3 linked regions of the Homo sapiens genome follow. The protein of the gene in region 3 purifies or fractionates together with the protein of the main gene of each other region. This does not show direct contact. Each region holds a gene or a part of one and is shown on either strand. Other genes may lie near its edges.

What was found.
Region 1: the proteins of BBS7 (region 3) and INTS6 purify together in Homo sapiens (co-immunoprecipitation; 3 studies listed by BioGRID and IntAct, with this or other methods). This does not show direct contact.
Region 2: the proteins of BBS7 (region 3) and SIMC1 purify together in Homo sapiens (affinity purification with mass spectrometry; 2 studies listed by BioGRID and IntAct, with this or other methods). This does not show direct contact.

What each region holds. Positions count from the first base shown.
Region 1 is NC_000013.11:51,366,009-51,373,036, reverse strand, and holds part of INTS6 (integrator complex subunit 6), read left to right. Parts: intron 1-3,726; coding exon 3,727-4,098; intron 4,099-5,138; coding exon 5,139-5,232; intron 5,233-7,028. UniProt on the Homo sapiens protein: Component of the integrator complex, a multiprotein complex that terminates RNA polymerase II (Pol II) transcription in the promoter-proximal region of genes.
Region 2 is NC_000005.10:176,241,424-176,248,451, forward strand, and holds part of SIMC1 (SUMO-interacting motif-containing protein 1), read left to right. Parts: intron 1-7,028.
Region 3 is NC_000004.12:121,860,473-121,867,500, reverse strand, and holds part of BBS7 (BBSome complex member BBS7), read left to right. Parts: intron 1-4,221; coding exon 4,222-4,284; intron 4,285-5,821; coding exon 5,822-5,997; intron 5,998-7,028.

The DNA of each region.
Region 1 (7,028 bases), on a different chromosome or scaffold from region 3:
AATAAAAGGGGTACGGAAGGATTTTACAGATTCAAATGTAGTTTAAGAGATATATAAGCCAGTTGCAATGTATAGGCCTTAACTGTACTCAGAATCAAACAAAATCAAACTTTTCCACAAACAGAAAACATGTTGGAGAGTATGGACACTGACTGTATATTTGATGTTATTAAATAATTGTGCATGCACAGGAATCAGTTGGGAAACCCGGGGAACAGATGCTGCTGACCTGACAGTGGGGTTTCAAGAAGAATATGTATTTGAGAAATACCTGGACATACCACTGAAGGACTTGGTTACTGGTCAGATGTTGGGACCAGAGCAGGGGAGGAGTCAGACGTATGTCTTGAGAGACACTGGGTGGGTGGAAGAAGAAATGATAAATGAGTTTAGTTTAGAAGTGCATATTAGGTCATCAAGTGGAGATCCTAAGTTAGAAGATGAATATTGAGTTTGGGCTCAGGAGAAGAGGATTGGGCTAGAGGGGTAGTATGAGAGGCAGGTTACTGCCTATTGCACTGAATAAAATCTCACCAAGGCAAAAAGAAGAAAAAACGCTCAGAACAGAACCTTGAAAGTGCCAAAGTTAAGAGGAGAAAGCAGAAAAGGAGATTGAGAAGGAAGAATTTTAGAGCTAGGAGAAAATAGGGGAGAATTTAATGTCATGGAAGCTAAAGGGCAAGATAATTGAGTGGGTAGTTGTCCCAAATACTTTAAAAAAAAAAAAAAAACTGTTCAATCAAGAGAAATGGAAAGATTCTGTGGTCTTTGGCGATCTTAGCAAGAGCAGTTTCTGTGGAGTAAAGGGGCAGAGCCTAACAAGGGGTTATGGGAGGAGTGAGAGGTGAGAAAATGGAAACAATGGCTATGAGTATAAACGACCAGTTAAGTTTAGTTGTAAAAGGAAGATGGGAAAAGAGCATGGTATCTGGAAGAGTTCACAGGGTTTTGAAAATGGTGATTTTTCTTTGTTTTTAATATCAGAGATGCTTGAGCATGTTTCAGTGCTGGTGGTGGAACCAGTAAAGAGGGAGAGGTTGAAAATAAAAATGAGAAAAGGCATACTCAGCACAAAATTACTGAGAACGCAAGAGGGAATGGTCTAGAGCATAGATGAAAGAATGCTCCCTCCATTGACACTGAATGTGGGGGAAGTGGGGCGAGGGTGTGTGCAATTTAGTTAGAGGAAGGTAAAGGAAGTCCCTTAATCATGGCTTTGCTTTTCTTCCGAGCTCTGTGAGGTAGAAGGTGAAGTATACTGCTGAGACGGAAGGGGATATTGGGAAAGTCAGAGGTTTGAAGAGAGTGAGGGAGTTTAACAATCTCTGTGGGAGAGAGAGAGAAAAGATTGTGATAAGGTTGCTAGACAGTGCCTGGGATCCAAGTAGAGATGGTGATTGTGACCACTCTGTAGAGCTGGGCCCTATTTCTCCAGCAGCGCTCATGATTCCAAATGCAAGTCTGGGGCAAGCAGATAGTGAGTCAAGAGATGGGATTTTGCTTGGCAGATGTTATGGGAAGACAGTAGAATAAGAGAAATTCAGACATTAGTAAAAGTGATATATCACTTTTACTTACAGGGATATAAGCCTGATACAGAATTGGCTACTTAGAAGGGATATGGTTAATAGGAGGAAGAAAGTAGAGGAATTGCTAGAGTCAAAGTCTGGCTGAGTTAAGGAGCAGTAGCGGGAGTACTGTGAAGATGATACTCCTCCATCTCTGAATTTGTCTGGATGTGAAAGGCGAAGGTGTAAGTGTAAGTTCTTTAGAGAGAAGCTGGGGAATGGGGAGGCCAGGTTCTTAACAGGTGATCTGCTTAAACACTGAAGTCACCACAGCACTTCTCAGACTTGAATATGCATGTGAATCACCTGGGAGGTCTAGTTAAACTACAGATTCTCATTTATTCAGTCTGAGGCAGATGAGCATTTCTAGCAAGCTCTCTGTTGGTGGTACTGCTGCTTGTCCACACACCAGACTTCGAGTAGTAGTAAGAACCAAGAATGAAGTCAGAAGGGCTTTGGGGGTGGAATGTGCATGGCAGATGTGCTTGATAGCAATAACTGAAGCATACCTTGAGAATGACCCTGCTTGCAGACAACACCTGCATGCGGTTGGGAGTTCTGAGCTAGGGAATAGGGTGGCTAACCCAAAGATCCATTCCCTATCTATAAGGAACATCTGTGCCCCTAACCCATTGTGAAGTGAATGCAGGCCAGACAGGGGATTGAGGCCCTTTGTTTTGGGTTAAATGAAGGTTGCCAGGTGGAGGTTGTTAGGGGGAAGAGTGCTAAGTGAAAATACGATATAAACTGTATACTTTTTGCAAGCAGTTGCCATTTTTCTGCCCAGCCTGCTGCCACTGGGCCGTGCAGTTATCCTGTCCAGCCCACCACCATTGGACTGTATGTAAGGTGCTTCTCCTGCCTAGCTTGCCACCACTGGGCTTGCTCCCCTTTATGTAGCCCCCAACAAAACGCCTTGTCTTGTTTGCTGGCTCTGGGTCTCTTCTTTGGCTTCTTGAACTTGGTGCCATCCCCACTGGAGTTGATAGGGGCTCAGCACAACAGAAGGAAGGCTATGAACTGGGTGCCAGAGACAACAGTGGCTTACAGGCTTGTACCCTGGAGATTGGCCTAAGATAGTGATAAGGAGAGACAGCGTGAATGGCATGGTTGAGTCTCACAAGAGTGCAAGGGAGTAATTTTGCAATAGCACTAGGAAGTGAAGGAATCAGTGACTCCATGTCCTTTTATGCCTATGGAGATTGTGCAAGAGAAAGCAATTTCTACTTTTGGTCTGGAAAGGAGAGCAGTCTCCATACAGGAGAGCTGGGTTTCAGTTAAAGCATAAGTTGTTGTAGAGAATATTCAGTAAAGAGGAGTTTGCAAATCATGGAATCGAATTTAGGAGAGAGTCAGGAATTTGGGGGATTTGTGATGAGTGTATAGGGGAATATGGGTAAACTAAGTTTATAGTTTGGACAGGAAATGAGGACAGTAGAGATGAATTCAGCTGGGATCCTGGAGGTTGGTGAGCAATCAGAGAACTTAAAATTCAGCTGCTTTCTGTGGGGCAAGTCTAATAATCTGGTGTTAAGAGGAAGGCTTGCGAGCTTTCAGTTTTAGTAGTCTAATAAGCTGAAGTGGGCACCAGGTTGCTCTGCACTGGTAAATAAATGATGACTAGATTCTCTAGTTAGAAGGTATACTGTAAAACATTACCTGTTTGGTGGTATGTTCCCTGCAGAATTTGGAACAGTTAAAGGCAGAAATATAAGTGGAAAGTAAAAACTACCCAGTGTTTACTTTTGCCTCTAAATGATACCAGATGTATAAGGCATATGTGTGAGTTAGGGCTCTCTAAGGTAGAGATAGATGACCGTGATAATTTTGATCATAGATATTTCATTGAAGTATCAAGAACCTACTTGTTTCAATAAAATTGCTATAGAATAAACCAGAAAACTAAAAACTACTTGAAATTGGCTTTATTTTTTCCTCCAAGGGTAAAAATTGTAAATATTTTGTAAATACTGTGTATGTGTCACATTGAAATCTACCGTATCTTTGGCAATGCTTAAAAACTATATCACATTATTTGTTAACTTGCATTAGTCAAGGAAAACAGTTGACTTGCTGTAGTAATGTTCTTTTGTAGCTTTATTTACTGTATGCTTTGAGACTGGATCCCATAATTTTTTCCCCGTATCTTTGTTTTTAGTTTCAGAAACCACTAATGATTCGATAATACATGATGTGGTTGAAAATCATGTTGCAGACCAACTTTCATCAGACATTACACCAAATGCTATGGATACGGAATTTTCAGCATCTTCTCCAGCCAGTTTACTGGAACGGCCAACCAATCATATGGAGGCTCTTGGTCATGACCATTTAGGAACCAATGACCTCACTGTTGGTGGATTTTTAGAAAATCATGAGGAGCCAAGAGATAAAGAACAATGTGCTGAAGAGAACATACCAGCATCTTCACTCAACAAAGGAAAGAAATTGATGCATTGCAGAAGCCATGAAGAGGTCAATACTGAACTAAAAGCACAAATAATGAAAGAGATCCGAAAGCCAGGAAGAAGTATGTATAATAAGAGACGAACCTCAGATCTGATTTCTGTATGTGCTCAAAAAGCAAAAAAGAAAAAAAAAGTCAAGTAACTGTAGTAAAAGAATACATATGATTCTAGATCTGTCTTGAACAACATCTCAGTTAAGATCCTTTATTCATCTGACCAACACCAAATATCTTCTATTTCCAAGGTACTAGGTATGGTGGTAGGCAGCAGGGACTGAGAGCAGAGCAACACTGTACAGATAAATTGACAGGAACCCATAGTCTTGAATATTCTGACCAACGATGGAATTTTAATATAGCAGCTAGCTCACAAGAGATATAGTGAAAATTAAATGACTTCATGTCTGTAAAGTTCTTGTCATAGTGCCTACCACTATGTTTAGTAGTTAAACTGTGATATTATAGGATATGTTTAGGCCAAAAAACTAAAGTTATGAAAGCTCTCTGGTATATGAACACAAAAGAACTTCGTGGGAAAAAGTTCAGTATTATTGGCATTCATTTAGAGGATGTTAACAGATCACTTGCCCTGGGGTAGTAGAATGACCTGGGTGGTCCAGAAATGGGAACAAATCAGTCCTTGGAGTTCAGACGTTTATAGCCCTTGCAGAGTTTCATATGAAAACTTTAAACTGAAATAACACTCTTAACCTGTCTGGTTTTTACCCCCACTTCCCAGTTACCCCCATGTTAGCTGTTAGAATTTTAAACTGTAAGGATGGAGTTTTGTAAAGGCCACTTGTTCTTATTTTTTAGTGATACTACCATAAAGCTATTTACTCATCCTTTTAAGCTTTATGTTTGATACCTTAATAGGAACTTTTACTTACAAAGCAGGGTTTGATTAGTTGTTTTATCTTTGTTGCTGTGTACTTACTTTTACATATATGTTAAAATATAAAATCTCTAATGAGTGGTGAAATTTTTATGTAGAATGTTTTTATCTCAGTATATCTTAATATCATAAACTGCAAAAGAAGAATATTGAATAAGAATACAAATGAAAGGCACTTAATTTTTCTTTTTGTTTCTTTTGCTTTAAGAATATGAAAGAATCTTCACTTTACTGAAGCATGTGCAAGGCAGTTTACAAACAAGACTAATATTTTTACAAAATGTCATTAAAGAAGCATCAAGGTAAATAAACTATTGCATATAATGAAATGGTGATGAAATGAGTCCACAGTTTATATAGGCAGTATTTTAATAGTATCCGTTTTGCACTTGTATTGTTTATAAATGTATATGGCATACCAACATATAAATAAATTCTTATTCTTTTTTAGTTTATTGAAAGAAATTCACTTAGAAAACAGCCACACATACATTCTTCAGGAATTATGGACCTTTTCTCCCTACAAATTACTGGATACTTGGAGAATTCTTGTTATTCTTCTCTGTAGCTTTTTGATATCTTTACATTAATATTTTATAACCTTTAATTTTTCTCCTTTATACATTAATATTGGTGACTAAAAATAACGTACTTGAGTGTCATTTATTTTTACATGGGAAAACGTAATTAAGGAGACAAGAATTGGACAAATGGGCCTTATTCTGATTGTTTCAGTAGCCCAGGATCATTAGTACATTGGCCCTCTGTATCCCTGGGTTCCACATTCATTGGATTCAAGCAACCACAGATTGAAAGTATTTGGAGGCGGGGAAATGGATGGTTGTATCTGTATTGAATATGTACAGGCTTTTTTTTTCTTGTCATTTTCTAAATAATTCAGTCTAATTCATATCGTATTTACACTGTATTAGTATTATAAATAATGTAGAGATTATTTAGAGCATATGGGAGAATGTACATAGGTTACATGCAAATATTGGGCCATTTTATACAAGGGACTTGAGCATTCGTGGATTTTAGTGTTCATAGGGAGGCCTAGAATAAATCCCCCATCCATACCGAGGGATCACTGTGTAAAGAAGGTGGATAAAGGTTATAAATGGTAATTAAGAAGTGCAATTAACTGGAAAACATAGTTGTATGAGTTTAAAAACATTTTTTATTTTCCCTTCAAGATTTTGGGGATTTTAGTATTATAAGAAAACTTGGGGCTTATCACATCCCACCTTCTAAATGTAAACACACTTATACTTTGTCCCCCTGTCTCTTCTATGCTACACATGAAGATTTTAGATAAAGTTGGTTTTGTTTCTGGTTTTCTTTTCTTTTTGTACTTTTGGAGTGGCTAGAGCATAGGCCAGTTTGCAGGATCAAGATAAGGCTATAACTTTTCATGTAATTTTGAGTATTTAACCTATTATGCTCTTTATGGTAACATTCTGTCAGCTAAAACCTCATTAGGAATTTATATCCCCGGTATCTGTACTTCACTTCTGCCACCTTTTAGAGAGTTGTGTAGTATTATGGTGGCTATTTATATTAGCTTCTAAGTAGCAAGGAAGTAGGAATAAAATGTCCAGTGTCTTGGGATATTCTTAAAACCGTCAGCAGTTACGTATACAGATGCAATTTTAGTCTGTCCATATTTGTTACTGAAAATCTTTAAAAGTTGTTACTTGAACTTTAACTGCTTGCTATACTCTGTATTATAGATGTCTATCCTTGATTTGCTAGCTCTCAAATTGTAATAGAATACCATGGTTTTTAAATGCTGCTGACCAATTTTCATTTCTTCTTCCATTTTGTGGGAGATTATATTCATACTTTGTTCACATTCCTTTCAATATTCAGCTTACAAAGAGCATGAGAAGAAGCTATTGAAGTATTTGCTTGGGGAGCCCAAATTTCACTAGAGTGTTTGCAGCCCTTGAATATATTTTGAATATATTAGTTTTTTGTTTTTTTGTTTGTTTTTTCCTTTTTCTTTTCGGTTGTGGAAGGAACAACCTCTTTCCCATTGTTTAGCCCTAGAGTGTTTTAGGGACAAACTATAATACTGTACTAGGATAATAATTTG
Region 2 (7,028 bases), on a different chromosome or scaffold from region 3:
TATTATGCCTTCGTTTCTAAATTTTCTCTAAGAACCCAGTGAAAAATTCCCTCATAATCTTTGTACTCTTGTTCATTTGTTTATTAAGTTCCTCTTAGAAGTTAGATTGCTGAGTCAAAAGGTGTGCCCTACTTTATATGTAGCTAACCCTTGAAGAACACGGGGATTAGGGTTGCTAACCCCCCCGTGCAGTTGAAAATTTACATGTAACATTTGACTCCTCGAAAACTTAACTACCAGTGGCCTACTGTTGACTGGAAGCCTTACCAGTAACATAAGCAGTTAACTCATGTTTTGTATGTTATATGGACTCTTACGATAAAGTAAGCAAGAGAAAAATGTTAAGATCATAAGGAAGATAAAATACATTTACAGTACTATACTGCATTTGTCAATACCATAGGTTTACATCGTCTGTTTACAAGATAAATCATCTGTCTGAAATAGGGGACAACCACAGCTGCAGACCTCTATCTACGGTACATCTCAAGCGATTCAGCTTTTCTTATGTCATGACTTTTCTCTGTTTCTTGAGAGCACATCCAGCATCACTAAGCACTTTGTATGGGTTTCATGGTGTTATTCAAGGTTTACGATATTACCCTACACATGATTAAACAAGTATATGTGGAAAAAAACCCAGGAGAGAACACTTGTTACCGTGATACACAGTTTACTGGGAAGTAGTGCAGAAATTGATTAGTGTCACGTGGCGTTTTAAGTGGATCCTCACAACACTTGAGCCCACCACAGCAGCAGCAGATGTCTGTGGTAGTAGGACATTATTATCACGGTAGTACAGTGTAGTCTATGGTAAATTTTATGCAGTTGTGATACAAATTAAAAAGAAAAAAATAATGAATTTAAAAATATGCAGTTGTGAGTTAATATTGCATCTTTACATTTCTGTCAACTGCAGATGTCACCATCTATGGTCAGTAAGTGATTGTGTGCATAAATTTTGATAAAGTTTAACTTTGTATAATAGATTTGTGTTGATTTTATGGTAGTAAATGGATAAAATAGGCTAGTATCTACATATATTTTATGCATTCAGGACATATCTTTTTCTTAGTTTTTTTCAATTTTTATAGGCTGTGGAGTTCATCTGTGAGTTTTCCAAATTGTTATAAATCGCCAAAAAATTTTCCAATATATTTATTGAAAAAAACTCTCTTGTAAGTGGACCCATGCAGTTCAAACCTGTGTTGTTCATGAATCAACTGTATTGCCAAATTTCCTACAGAAATTGTGCATTAATATTCTTACCAGTGGTATATGGCCAATCATATCTCTTTCTCTGCTGCCTAGTCACCCCTAGGTATTGTTACATTATTCCATAAATATTTATTGAACACTTATTATATACCAGGCACTCTTAGAGGTGCTGGGAATACATCTATGAAAACCAAGTCCCTGCCGTCATGGAGATTTCATTTTACTGAGGGGACACAGATAGTAAACAACACTATAAATGTAATGTCAGGTGATAATACAGAGTGTTAGGGGAAAAAATACGGTATTTTTGTTCTTTTAATCTTTGCTGTTTGATAGCCAGATTCCATAAGATGTCATTATTTTTTATTTTTTTATTATGATTCATTTATTCAATAAATATTTATTGAGCATATGCTGTAACCCTGGGGACCAGAGGTGAACAAGATGATAATGGAACTACATTCTACTGTGGAAAGATAGGCAGTAAACAAACTAACAAATAAGAGAACAGTATAATAGTAACTTTGGTGGGATTGGGAACATTTGATTGTGTTTTCAGAGAAGGCCTCTCTGAAGAGTTAATATTTGACCTGAGACTAAAATGACAACAAATTAGTTATAAGATCTAGATGAATAAGGCATTGTCAAAGGGAACAACAAAACCAAAAGTTTGGAGGCGGGAATGAGCATGACTTACTGGAAGAATGGAAAGCCAGTGAGGCTGCAATGTAACGACTGATGGACAGAGTCAGAAGAGATGAGAAGTAGGTAGGTTAGGTTATAGGGCTTTGGAGACCACAATAAGGGATTTGGATTTTATTGTAATACAGTAAGAAATCTTTGAAGGTTTAAGCAGGACAGTGACATGATTTGATTTACTTTTTTTTTTTTTGGAGATGGAGTCTTGCTCTGTTGCGTTGCCCAGGCTGTAGTGCAGTGGTGCGATCTCGGCTCACTGCAACCCCCACTTCCCAGGTTCAAGCAATTTCCCCCACCTCAGCCTCCCGAGTAGCCGGGACTACAAGCACACCACCACGCTTGACTAATTTTTTGTATTTTAGTAGAGACGGGGTTTCACCATGTTGGCCAGGATGGTCTAGATCTCCTGACCTCATGATCCACCCGCCTCGGCCTCCCAAAGTGCTGGGATTACAGGCGTGAGCCACTGCACCTAGCCTTGATTTACATTTTTTAGAGATGACTTTAGCTACTGTGAAAAGAAAAGATGGTAAGGTAGGGAGACCATATAATTTATCATCCAATTGGGAAACTTTTGCAAATGAAAAGGGATGCTAACTGGACCAGGATGTCAAGCAACAGGTGAAAACTGGAACTGTCCCAAACAAAGCAGAAGTGTAGTCACCCTACTGTAAGAGGGGAAGAGTGAAATTAGGGAGATCAGTTAGAAGGTTGGCTGTAGTAGTCCAGGTCAGAAATAACTGTAGCTTGGACTGGAGTGGTGGTACAGACTGGGAGAGTGGAGGGATGTAGATATTTAGTAAATAAAATCAACAGGTCCTGATAACTTGGATGTGGATAACAAGGGAAAGGAAGGAATGAAGAAGGATGCCCTGAGTTCTGGCTTGAGCAACTGAATGCATGTTGGTGTCATGCATTGAAATGAAGCAGACTTGGGAGGAACAGGGTTAGAGGAAAGATTCAAGAGTTCTGTTTTGAAGGTATAAAACTTAACGATGCCTGTGGAATAGCCAACTGGAGATGCCAAGTATAACATTTGTACTGAGTTTAGAGCTCTGAAGAAAAGTCCTGACTAGAGATACAAATTTAGTCTTGTTAGCGCATAGGTTATAGTGAAGTCATTGACCTGGATAAAATCATCTAGGTTGAGGTGACAAGAGGAAGAACATCCAGAACCTAGCCCAAGGGAACACCATAGTGTCCCAAGGGAGGAAGAGCAGCTAGTGAGGTTGGAGATAAAGGAGTGTGCTCACATGCAGTACAGCCAGACATCTTGCTTATGTTTATTGGAAACACATAGGGTATGTGTGCAAATTCCCTATGCTTGTCCTTTGCCCATTTTTCTGTTGCAGTGTTATAATGTTTCTTTTTTTTTTTCCTTTTTTTTTTTTTTTTTTTGAGAGGGAGTTTCACTCTTGTTGCCCAGGCTGGAGTGCAATGGCGCAATCTCAGCTCACTGCAACCTCCACCTACCTGGCTCAAGTGATTCTCCTGCCTCAGACTCCCAAGCAGCTGGGATTACAGGCATGTGCCACCATGCCCAGCTAATTTTATATTTTTAGTAGAGACAGGGTTTTACCATGTTGGTCAGGCTGGTCTCAAACTCCTGACCTCAAGTGATCCACCCACCTCGGCCTCCCAAAGTGCTAGGATTACAGGCATGAGCCACCGCACCCGGCCAACATTTCTTACTCATTTGTTAAATCTACTTATATATTAAAGATTGTTATAGGTGGAACTGTATCTCCTAAAAAGATGTGCTGAAGTTCTAACCCCCCACTACCTCAGATTGTGACCTTATTTAGAAATAGGGTCATTGGCAGATATAATCAGTGAAGATGAGGTTGTGCCGAGTAGAGTGAACCCTTAATCCAACATGACTACTGTCCTTATGAGAAGAACATGTGAAGACACAGGGGAAGAACGCCATGTGACAGTGGAAGCAGAAACCGAAGTTATGCAGCTGCAAGCCAAGGAACACCGAGGACTGCTGGCGACATCAGGAGCTAAGAAAAAGGCATGAAACAGATTCTTCCCTGGAGCCTTCAAGAGAACGTGGCTCTGTAGACACCTTGATTTCAAACCTTTAGCCTCCAGGACTGTGAGGGGATAAATTTCTGTTGTTTAAATCCACCTAGTTTCTGGTAATTTTTACTAGGAAACTAATATAGCCTCTTGTCATACATGTTACAATTTTCTTTCAACTTTCGATTTTGTTTTTTTAATTACAGAAGTTTTACATTTTTATATAGTCAATTCTACCACTCCTTTTCTTTATGATTTCTTAGTTGTCATGCTTATGTCAACCTAAATAACAGACAGCGACTCTCTAAAAAGAAAGTGATATTTATTCAGGAATGGCATTGCAACCGGAGTGTGTGAGCCATAATAAACTATGTGTGTATTCAGGGAGGTAAAGGAAGGCAAAAGCTTTTAAAGGAAAAATGAGGAGGATTACATAATTGTTTTGAGATAATTATCGTTATCTGCAAGGATTAATAACAAGGGTGGCTCCAGTCCAAGGTCGAGCAGGCAGTTGCTGGGCAGATGTCCTCATGGAAGTATTTTTTTCTGTAAGGTTGTGGTTTTTGCAGAGCCTTTTGTGGTACTTATCAGGCATTTGTGCATAATAATCCTCCCTTCATGGCCTTCCCTAGCTCTATTTGTCAAGGTTTTTTTTTTTTTTTTGAGACGAGTCTCGCTCTGTCACCCAGGCTGGAGTGCAGTGGCACGATCTCGGGTCACTGCAACCTCCACCTCCCGGATTCAAGCAATTCTCCTGCCTCAGCCTCCTGAGTAGCTGGGATTACAGGCATGTGCCACTACACCTGGCTAATTTTTTTGTATTTTTCGTAGAGACGGGGTTTCACCATATTGGCCAGGCTGGTCTCAAACTGCTGACCTTGTGATCCACCCACCTCGACCTCCCAAAGTGTTGGGATTACAGGCATGAGCCACCACGCCTGGCCAAGTGACTCCATTTTGATACTGACAACTCACATTTCCCTCATTTGATCAAGATGTTTTCCCAAAAACATTGCCAATCAGCTTGTATAATAGTTCAGGGGTGTGTGTGTGTGTGTGTGTGTGTGTGTGTGTGTGTGTGTGTTGTTTGTTTGTTTGTCTTGAGATGGAGTCTCACTCTGCCACCCAGGCAAAGTGATCTTGGCTCACTGCAACCTCCACTTCCCGGGTTCAAGTGATTCTCCCACTCAGCCTCCCGAGTAGCTGGGATTACAGGCAAGCGCCACCATGCCTAGCTAATTTTTTATTTATTATTATTATTATTCTTTAAGTTCTGGGATACATGTGCAGAACGTGCAGGTTTGTTACATAGGTATACACATGCCATGGTGGCTGCTGCACTTATCAACCCATCATCTACCTTAGGTATTTCTCCTAATGCAATCCCTCCCCTAGCCCCCCACCCCCCAACAGGCCCGGGTGTGTGATGTTCCCATCCCTGTGTCCATGTGTTCTCATTGTTCAACTTCCACTTATAAGTGAGAACATGCAGTGTTTGGTTTTCTGTTCCTGTGTTAGTTTGCTGAGAATGATGGTTTCCAGCTTCATCCATGTCCCTCCAAAGGACATGAACTTATCCTTTTTTATGGCTGCATAGTATTCCATGGTGTATATGTGCCACATTTTCTTTATGCGTCTATCATTGATGGGCATTTGGGTTGGTTCCAAGTCTTTGCTATTGTGAATAGTGCTGCAATAAACATACATGTGCATGTGTCTTTATAGTAGAATGATTTATAATCCTTTGGGTATATACCCAGTAATGGGATTGCTGGGTCAAATGGTATTTCTGGTTCTAGATCCTTGAGGAATCACCACACTGTCTTCCACAATGGTTGAACTAATTTACACTCCCTCCAACAGATTAAAGTGTTCCTATTTCTCCACATCCTCTCCAGCATCTGTTGGTTCCTGACTTTTTAATGATTGCCATTCTAACTGGTGTGAGATAGTGTATCATTGTGCTTTTGATTTGCATTTCTCTAATGACCAGTGATGATGAGCTTTTTTTCATATGTTTGTGGGCCGCGTAAATGTCTTCTTTTAAGAAGTGTCTGTTTATATCCTTCGCCCACTTTTTGATGGGGTTGTTTGTTTTTTTCTTGTAAATTTGTGTAAGTTCCTTGTAGATTCTGGATATTAGCCCTTTGTCAGATGGATAGATTACAAAGATTTTCTCCCATTCTGTAGGTTACCTGTTCACTCTGATGATAGTTTCTTTTGCTGTGCAGAAGCTCTTTGGTTTAATCAGATCCATTTGTCAATTTTGGCTTTTGTTGCCATTGCTTTTGGTGTTTTAGTCATGAAGTCTTTGCCCATGCCTATGTCCTGAATGGTATTGCCTAGGTTTTCTTCTAGGGTTTTTATGGTTTTAGGTTTACATTTAAGTCTTTAATCCATCTTCAGTTAATTTTTGTATAAGGTGTAAGGAAGGGGCCCGGTTTCAGTTTTCTGCATATGGCTAGCCAGTTTTCCCAACACCATTTATTAAGTAGGGAATTCTTTCCCCATTGCTTGTTTTTGTCAGGTTTGTCAAAGATCAGATGGTTGTAGATGTGTGGCATTATTTCTGAGGCCTTTGTTCTGTTCCGTTGGTCTATATATCTGTTTTGGTACCAGTACCATCCTGTTTTGGTTACTGTAGCCTTGTAGTATAGTTTGAACTCAGGTAGTGTGATGCCTCCAGCTTTGTTCTTTTTGCTTAGGATTGTCTTGGCTATATGGGCTCTTTTTTGGTTCCTTATGAACTTTAAAGTAGTTTTTTCTAATTCTGTGAAGAAAGTCAGTGGCAGCTTGATGGGGATAGCATTGAATCTATAAATTTCTTTGGGCAGTATGGCCATTTTCATGATATTGATTCTTCCTATCCATGAGCATGGAATGTTTTTCCATTTGTTTGTGTCCTCTTTTATTTCGTTGAGCAGTGGTTTGTAGTTCTCCTTGAAGAGGTCCTTCACATCCCTTGTAAGTTGTATTCCTAGGTATTCTATTCTCTTTGTAGCAATTATGAATGGGAGCTTGCTCATGATTTGGCTTTCTGTTTGTCTATTATTGGTGTATAGGAATGCTTGTGACTTTTGCACATT
Region 3 (7,028 bases):
TTATCCTGATATATAAACATTTTAGCAAGATGAATCAACAATTACACATAGTACTAGAAGTCCTAGCCAGAGCAATTATACAAGAAAAAGAAATAAAGTGCATCCAGATTGGAAAGGAGAGTCAAATTATCTCTGTTTGCCGATGACATGATCCTATATATAGAAAAACCTAAAGACTCTACCAAAAAACTCTTAGAACTGACAAATGAATTCAGTAAAGTTGCAGGATACAAAATTAATATACTGAAATTAGTAGTGTTTCTATACACAACAAACTAGCTGAAAAAGAAATCAAGAACACAATCCCAATTATAATAGATAAAAGATAAAATACTTAGGAATAAATTAACCAAGGAAATGAAAGACCTCTATAAAAAAAACTATAAAACACTGATGAAAGAAATTAAAGAGGATACCAACAAATGGAAAAACATCCCATGTTCATGGATTGGAAGAATTAATTTTGTTAAAATAACAATACAACCCAAAGCAATCTACAGATTCAATGCAATCTCTATCGAAATACCAATGTCATTTTTCACAGGAAGAGAAAAAAAATCTTAAAATTTGTATGGAACCACAAAGACCCCAAATAGCCAAAACAATCCTGAGTAAAAGGAACAAAGCTGGGGCATTACACTACCAGATCTCAAAATATACTACAAAGCTGTAGTAACCAAAACAGCATAATACTGGCATAAAAACACAGAGACACAGAGAACATAAAATGGAATAGAGAACTCAGAAATTAATCCACATATCTACAACCAACTGATTTTTGACAAAAGAGCCAAGAACAGCCCCTGGGGAAAGGACAGCCTCTTCAATAAATGGTGCTGGGAAAACTGAATATTCATATGCAGAAGGATGAAACCAAGACCCCCACCTCTCACCCCATATAAAAATGAACACAAAATGGATCAGAGACCTAAATGTGGCCAGGTGTGGTGGCTCACACTTGTAATCCCTGCAGTTTGGGAGGCCAAGGCGAGTGGATCACTTGAGGTCAGGAGTTCAAGACCAGCCTGGCCAACATGGTGAAACCCTATCTCTACTAGAAATACAAAAAAATTAGCTTGTCATTGTGGCAGGCACCTGTAATCCCAGCTACTCAGGAGAGGAAGACTCCATCTCAAAAAAACAAAACAAAACAAAACAAAAAACAAAAAAAGACCTAAATGTTAATGCTTTAGGACATTGGTCTGGGAAAATAGTTAATGAATAAGACCTCAAAAACACAAACAACAAAAGCAAAAATAAACAAGTGGGATCATATCAAACCAAAAAGCTTCTACACAGGAAAGGAAACAATCAACAAGAGTGAAAAGACAATCTATAGAATGGGATTTAAAATATTTGCAAACTACTCATCCAACAAGGAATTAATATCCAGAATATACAAGGAACTCAAACATACCAATAGCAAACAAACAAGCAATCTGATTAAAAAGTGGGCAAATGATCTAAACATTTCTCAGAAGAATACATACAAATGACCAAAAAAACATGAAAAAATACTTAACATCATTAATCATCAGGAAAATGGCAAATCAAACCACAATGAAGTATCATCTTACCCCAGTTAGAATGGCTGTTATCAAAAAGACAAGAAAACAAAAAACCAAAAAACAACAAATACTGGCAAGAATGTGGAGAAAGGAAACTCTTCTGTGCCATTGGTGGGATAGTACATCCACTATAGTGAACAGTATGTAGGATTTTTCAAAAACTACAAATAGGGCGACCATATGATTTAGCAACCCCACTGCTGGGAATTTACCCAAAGGAAAGGAAATCATCATATCAAAGAGACAACTGCAGCCTCATGTTTTATTGCAGCACTGTTCACAATAGCCAAGATATGGAATCAGCCTGGGTGTTTAACAACAGATGAATGTATAAAAAAAAGTGGTATATATACACAATGGAATACTATTCAGCAATAAAAAATAATGAAATCCTGGCCAGGCATGGTGACTCACGCCTGTAATCCCAGCACTTTGGGAGGCTGAGGCGGGCGGATCACCTGAGGTCAGCAGTTGGAGACCAGCCTGGCCAACATGGTGAAACCCCATCTGTACTAAAAATACAAAAATTAGCCAGGCACGATGGCAGGCATCTGTAATTCCAGCTACTTGGGGGGCTGACATGGGAGAATCGCTTGAACCCAGGAGGCAGAGGTTGCAGTGAGCTGAGATGGCACCTTTGCACTCCAGCCTGGCCGACAAGGGCAAAACTCTGTCTCAAAAAAAAAAAAAAGAGAGAGAAGAATGAAATCCTATCATTTGCAGTAACATGGATGGAACTGGAGGACATTATGTTTAGTGAAATAAGCCAGGAACAGAAAGTTGAACACCACATGTTCTCATTAATATGTGGAAGCTAAAAAAAGTTGGTCACGTTAAAGTAAAAAGTAGGACAGAGAATACTAGAGGCTGCAAAGGGTAGAGGGAAGGGAGGGATAGGGAGATATTTATTAAAGGATATAAAATTATAGCTAGATAGGAAGAAAAAACTCAAGTAGTCTATACCACTATAGGATGACTATAGTTAACAATATATAGTTTCAAATAGCTAAAAAGAAGGTATTGACTGATCCTAACCCAGAGAAATGATCAGTATTTTAGATGATGGATATGCTAATTATCCCAGTGTGATCAGTATATGTTATATGTATTGAAACATTGCTATGTACCCCACGAATATGTACAATTGTTGTCAATTAAAAAATAAATGAATAAAATAAAAAAGATAAACCAACAGATTTCTGATTGTCATTTACTGTATTAAGTCTACTAGATTAGCACTTCTCAAAATTTTTGGTCTCAGCACCCCTTTACACAATTAAATGATTGAGGATCCCAAAGAACATTTGTTTATGTAAGTTGTATGTATCAATACTTACTATATTAAAATGAAAACTAAGAAATGCTTAAACTATTTTATTTTAAAAAAATTATTACATGTTTACATAACATGTCTTTATGAAAAATAACTATTTTTCAAAACAAAGAATTTAGTGAGTATAGTGTCATTATGTTATACTTTTTGCAACTTGTTTAATGTCCTGGCATAAGCATACACACATAGATTTTCATATTTGTTTACTGCATTCAATCTGCTGTGCTATGTTGTTTTGGCTGAAATATTTGAAGAAAATCCAGCTTACACAGATACATAGCTGGAAATAAGGAGGGGTATTTAAATAGCTTTTTCAGATGATTGTGACTCTCTGTTTGATACTATGCCTAAACTTGATAAGTAGTAGTTTCTTAAATCAGAGCTCCCAGAGTTTTTTAGCACCAGGAACCAGTTTCGTGGAAGACAGTTTTTCCACCAATGGGGCTGGGATTGTTTTGGGATGAAACTGTGTTCTACCTCAGATCATCAGGCATTAGTTAGATTCTCATAAGGAGCATACAACCATGCGCAGTTCACAATAGGGTTTGTGCTTCTATGAGAATCTAATGACGCTGCTGATCTGACGGGAGGCGGAGCTCAGTCTGTAAATGATCACTTTCCCGCTGCTCACCTCCTGCTGTGTGGCCTGGTACCCAGCAGGCCACGTACTGGAACTGGTCTAAGGTTGTTTGATATCTACTTTTGAGGAAGAAGTGTTAAAATGTCCCTCTATATTTATTTCAAAACAATTCATTGTCTACATGTTGGTAATTGTTGAAACTAGGTGATAGGCACATGATAATTCATTATAATATTTTGTGTACATTTTCATACATTAAAATTTTTCTTTTAAAAAAGGTGTTTAAAATTATTAAATATGTCAGTCACAACTTTATTTGATAATCTGTTTTAAAAGTTAATCTTAAAATGTTCTTATGCTCCAGTTATGAAAAAAAAATTACTTTGTAGGCATTTCTGTCCATAACTGTTGTCTGGCAGTATACCTTCGTAACAACCTGCATGTGGACTCCCAGAACCTACAATAAAAGTTGAAAAAAAGCAAAACAAAATATATTGTGTTGTCCTATTAACATTATAGGAACAAAATCTATGGCCAATTACTTTTCTAATGACTCTCCATATCCTTCTCTTTTGGCTCTTGTTCTTTTGAGGATTATTTTTTGTGGGGGTGTCTTTCCTAGATTTTCTGATCTCTATTAAGTCAGTATTTATAAATTAAGAATCTTGCTTTCCCTGTATATAATTATTAGGTCATAATATTAATAATAGTAATTTTAGATTATCTTCCATCTATTACAGGTGGTTATTGGAGATCATGATGGGGTAGTTATGTGCTTTGGCATGAAGAAAGGAGAAGCAGCAGTAAGTATAGCTTTGTGAAGGGGAAAAATGGTTTTCTAAAAGAGAATGCACTATTTATTGAATAATACTAGGTTAAAAATTTCCTAAAATACAGGTAATGGAAAATGGGTTCTGAGGTAAGTAGTTATGTGAGATATGAGTCTGCGGGTAGCACAAAAGTAATTTGCTAGCTAGTTGTAAGGCACCTTTGGCATCCTGTGGTCGTGGGTTACTTTTCTATGCTGTGTAATATATTACCCCAAATTTAGGGCCTTAACACAACACACATTTATTATCTAACAGTTTCTGTAGCACAGGAGTTTGTGCTCAAGGTTTCACACAGCTGCAATTTAGATGTCAGCTGAGCTGTGTTCCTTTCTAGAGTGTGGGGTCTTATTCCAAGCTCATGTGGTTGTTTGCAGAATTCAGTTCCTTGCTATTATAGGACTGAGGTCCCCACTTTATTAACATCTGTAAACCAGGGGCTGCTCTCAATTCCTTGAGGTCTCTGCAATTTCTTGCTCTGTGGTTCTCTTACAGTCCTTCTCACAACATGGTAATCTAATTCATCAAAGCCAGCAGGAAATTTCTGTAGTCTGCTAAGAAAGAATCTTATGTAGCATAATGTAATCATGGAAGCAACTAACCCACAACCTTTTCCACTTAATTTAACCTAATCAAGGAAGTTATTACTATTACATTATCATATTTACAGATCATAATTAGAAACTTAGAATGATGAGTCTGAGATGTGAATTCTAGTATTCATTATATATTATATGGAATTTCCAGAAAGATGAAGAGAATAAAAACTACCAGAAACTCAGTGTTTCCATTATTCATATTCTCCCAGATATCTTATTCTCTGTATATAAAGTCATGGGGAGGAAGTGGAGGAGAAGAAGCTGGTGCAAATAATAAAATGGAAAATAACCACAAAAAAATTAATGAAATGAATATTGTTTTCAGTTAAATAGATATATGATTATAGGTATTAAGTCATACATTCACATTTTCAGTAAATTCTATAGTCCTTTAACTATTAAAATTTATAAAAATTGTAAAGAAGCCAGGAAAGATTAGTTTTAAAAGATGATTGAAGTGTAAAAACATGTTCATTGGACCTCATTAAAGAATTTGCCAAATGGACTTCCCTGTTCGTAGGAGTATTGTTAATCCAATGCCTCTAAAACTTCAGTAGGCATAGGAACCAGCTGGGGAATCTTGTTAAAATACAGATTCTCATTCAGTTGATCTGCTGCATTTTAAATAAATTTAGTGATGCTAACATTGCTGCTTAGTGAACTGTACTTTGAATTACAAGGATTTAGATTTCAATGACATCATTCAAATATGTGTGGGAATATATATTTAAAAGTTAAGTATAGCAAAAAACCTGAAGACCTGCTGAAGTATATAGATTATTATCTAAAATTATTTCTATATAGTGGAACTATAATATTTTGCAAATTTAACATCATAACATTTTCTATTGTAAAGGAAAAAATGCTCACAATAAAGTAATTTGTGTACTTTTTTCCTGAATGATTTTTTTCAGGCAGTGTTCAAGACTTTACCCGGGCCGAAGATTGCAAGGCTGGAACTGGGAGGGGTTATCAACACACCTCAGGAGAAAATTTTTATTGCTGCAGCATCTGAGATTAGAGGCTTCACAAAAAGAGGAAAACAGTTCCTCTCCTTTGAAACAAACCTCACTGAAAGCATTAAAGCTATGTATGTCTTTTGTTCTCTTTTGTATTTTTACATACTTATTTATAATATTTTGGATAGATGTGAGGCAACTAAGTATCATATCTTAATAGGCTTTCTGGAAAATAAAATTAACTAAAGGTATTTTATTAGTCAGAAACTAAATTTGACCTACAATCAATATTAAATTGGTTGTTGAAATTTTTTTAAAGAACTTTATAGTATTTATACAATCATTTTTGACAACTTGGTTCAGTTTGATTCATGATCAAGGTATCAAAAAAATTGAAAATAAATCTAGATATTTAGCTTTATGTTCCTTGGCTATTTTTGATAGTTCTGGTTTTCAGGTAGCATCATTATGTTAAAAGGCTGGCTGTCAAAGTTAGTGATTACCAATAGGGTATAATTTCAGGTATATCAGGTAAGACTCTAAGTGAAATATAGCTCCCTAAATGGCTGCCTGATATGTGAGATTTTGCAATTCAGATTTGAGTTTTTGAATCACAGGGAGCTGAAAAGGGCTTTAAAATTCATCTAATTCATTATTTCTTATATTTGCTACTTAGAAGAATCCCTTGGGCCACTTAAACAATTCCTTGTCCTACCTCATACCTGCCGAATCAAAATAACCAGGAGTAGGTTTTATTTTTATTTTTTAAGTTCTTCCTTTGAATCTAGTGCAGCCAAGTTATATAATCAGCCAGACTCTTAGGCTAGAAACAACTGATTCAGCCCAAAGTTTTGTATAATGCACAGCACATCTCCTGATGTTTGGGATGTAAAACATTGGCTTGGTGAAATTAGATTAAAATTAAACCATGATAAGTGGAAATATGTAATTTCAAATGGTTTAACAAGAATAGTAACACTTTTGAAATACACTTGTATATAGACATGGCCAATGATAATTATGGAATACTGAAAGTAATGTGTTAATAGCATAACTCTACATTCGGACAGTTATATGGATAGTAGTGTGAGAAAGATAGAGAGTTTCTCAGTAACAGTCTCTTCAAGTGGTTTCTTAAATGTTTTTACTAGAGTGGCAAAGA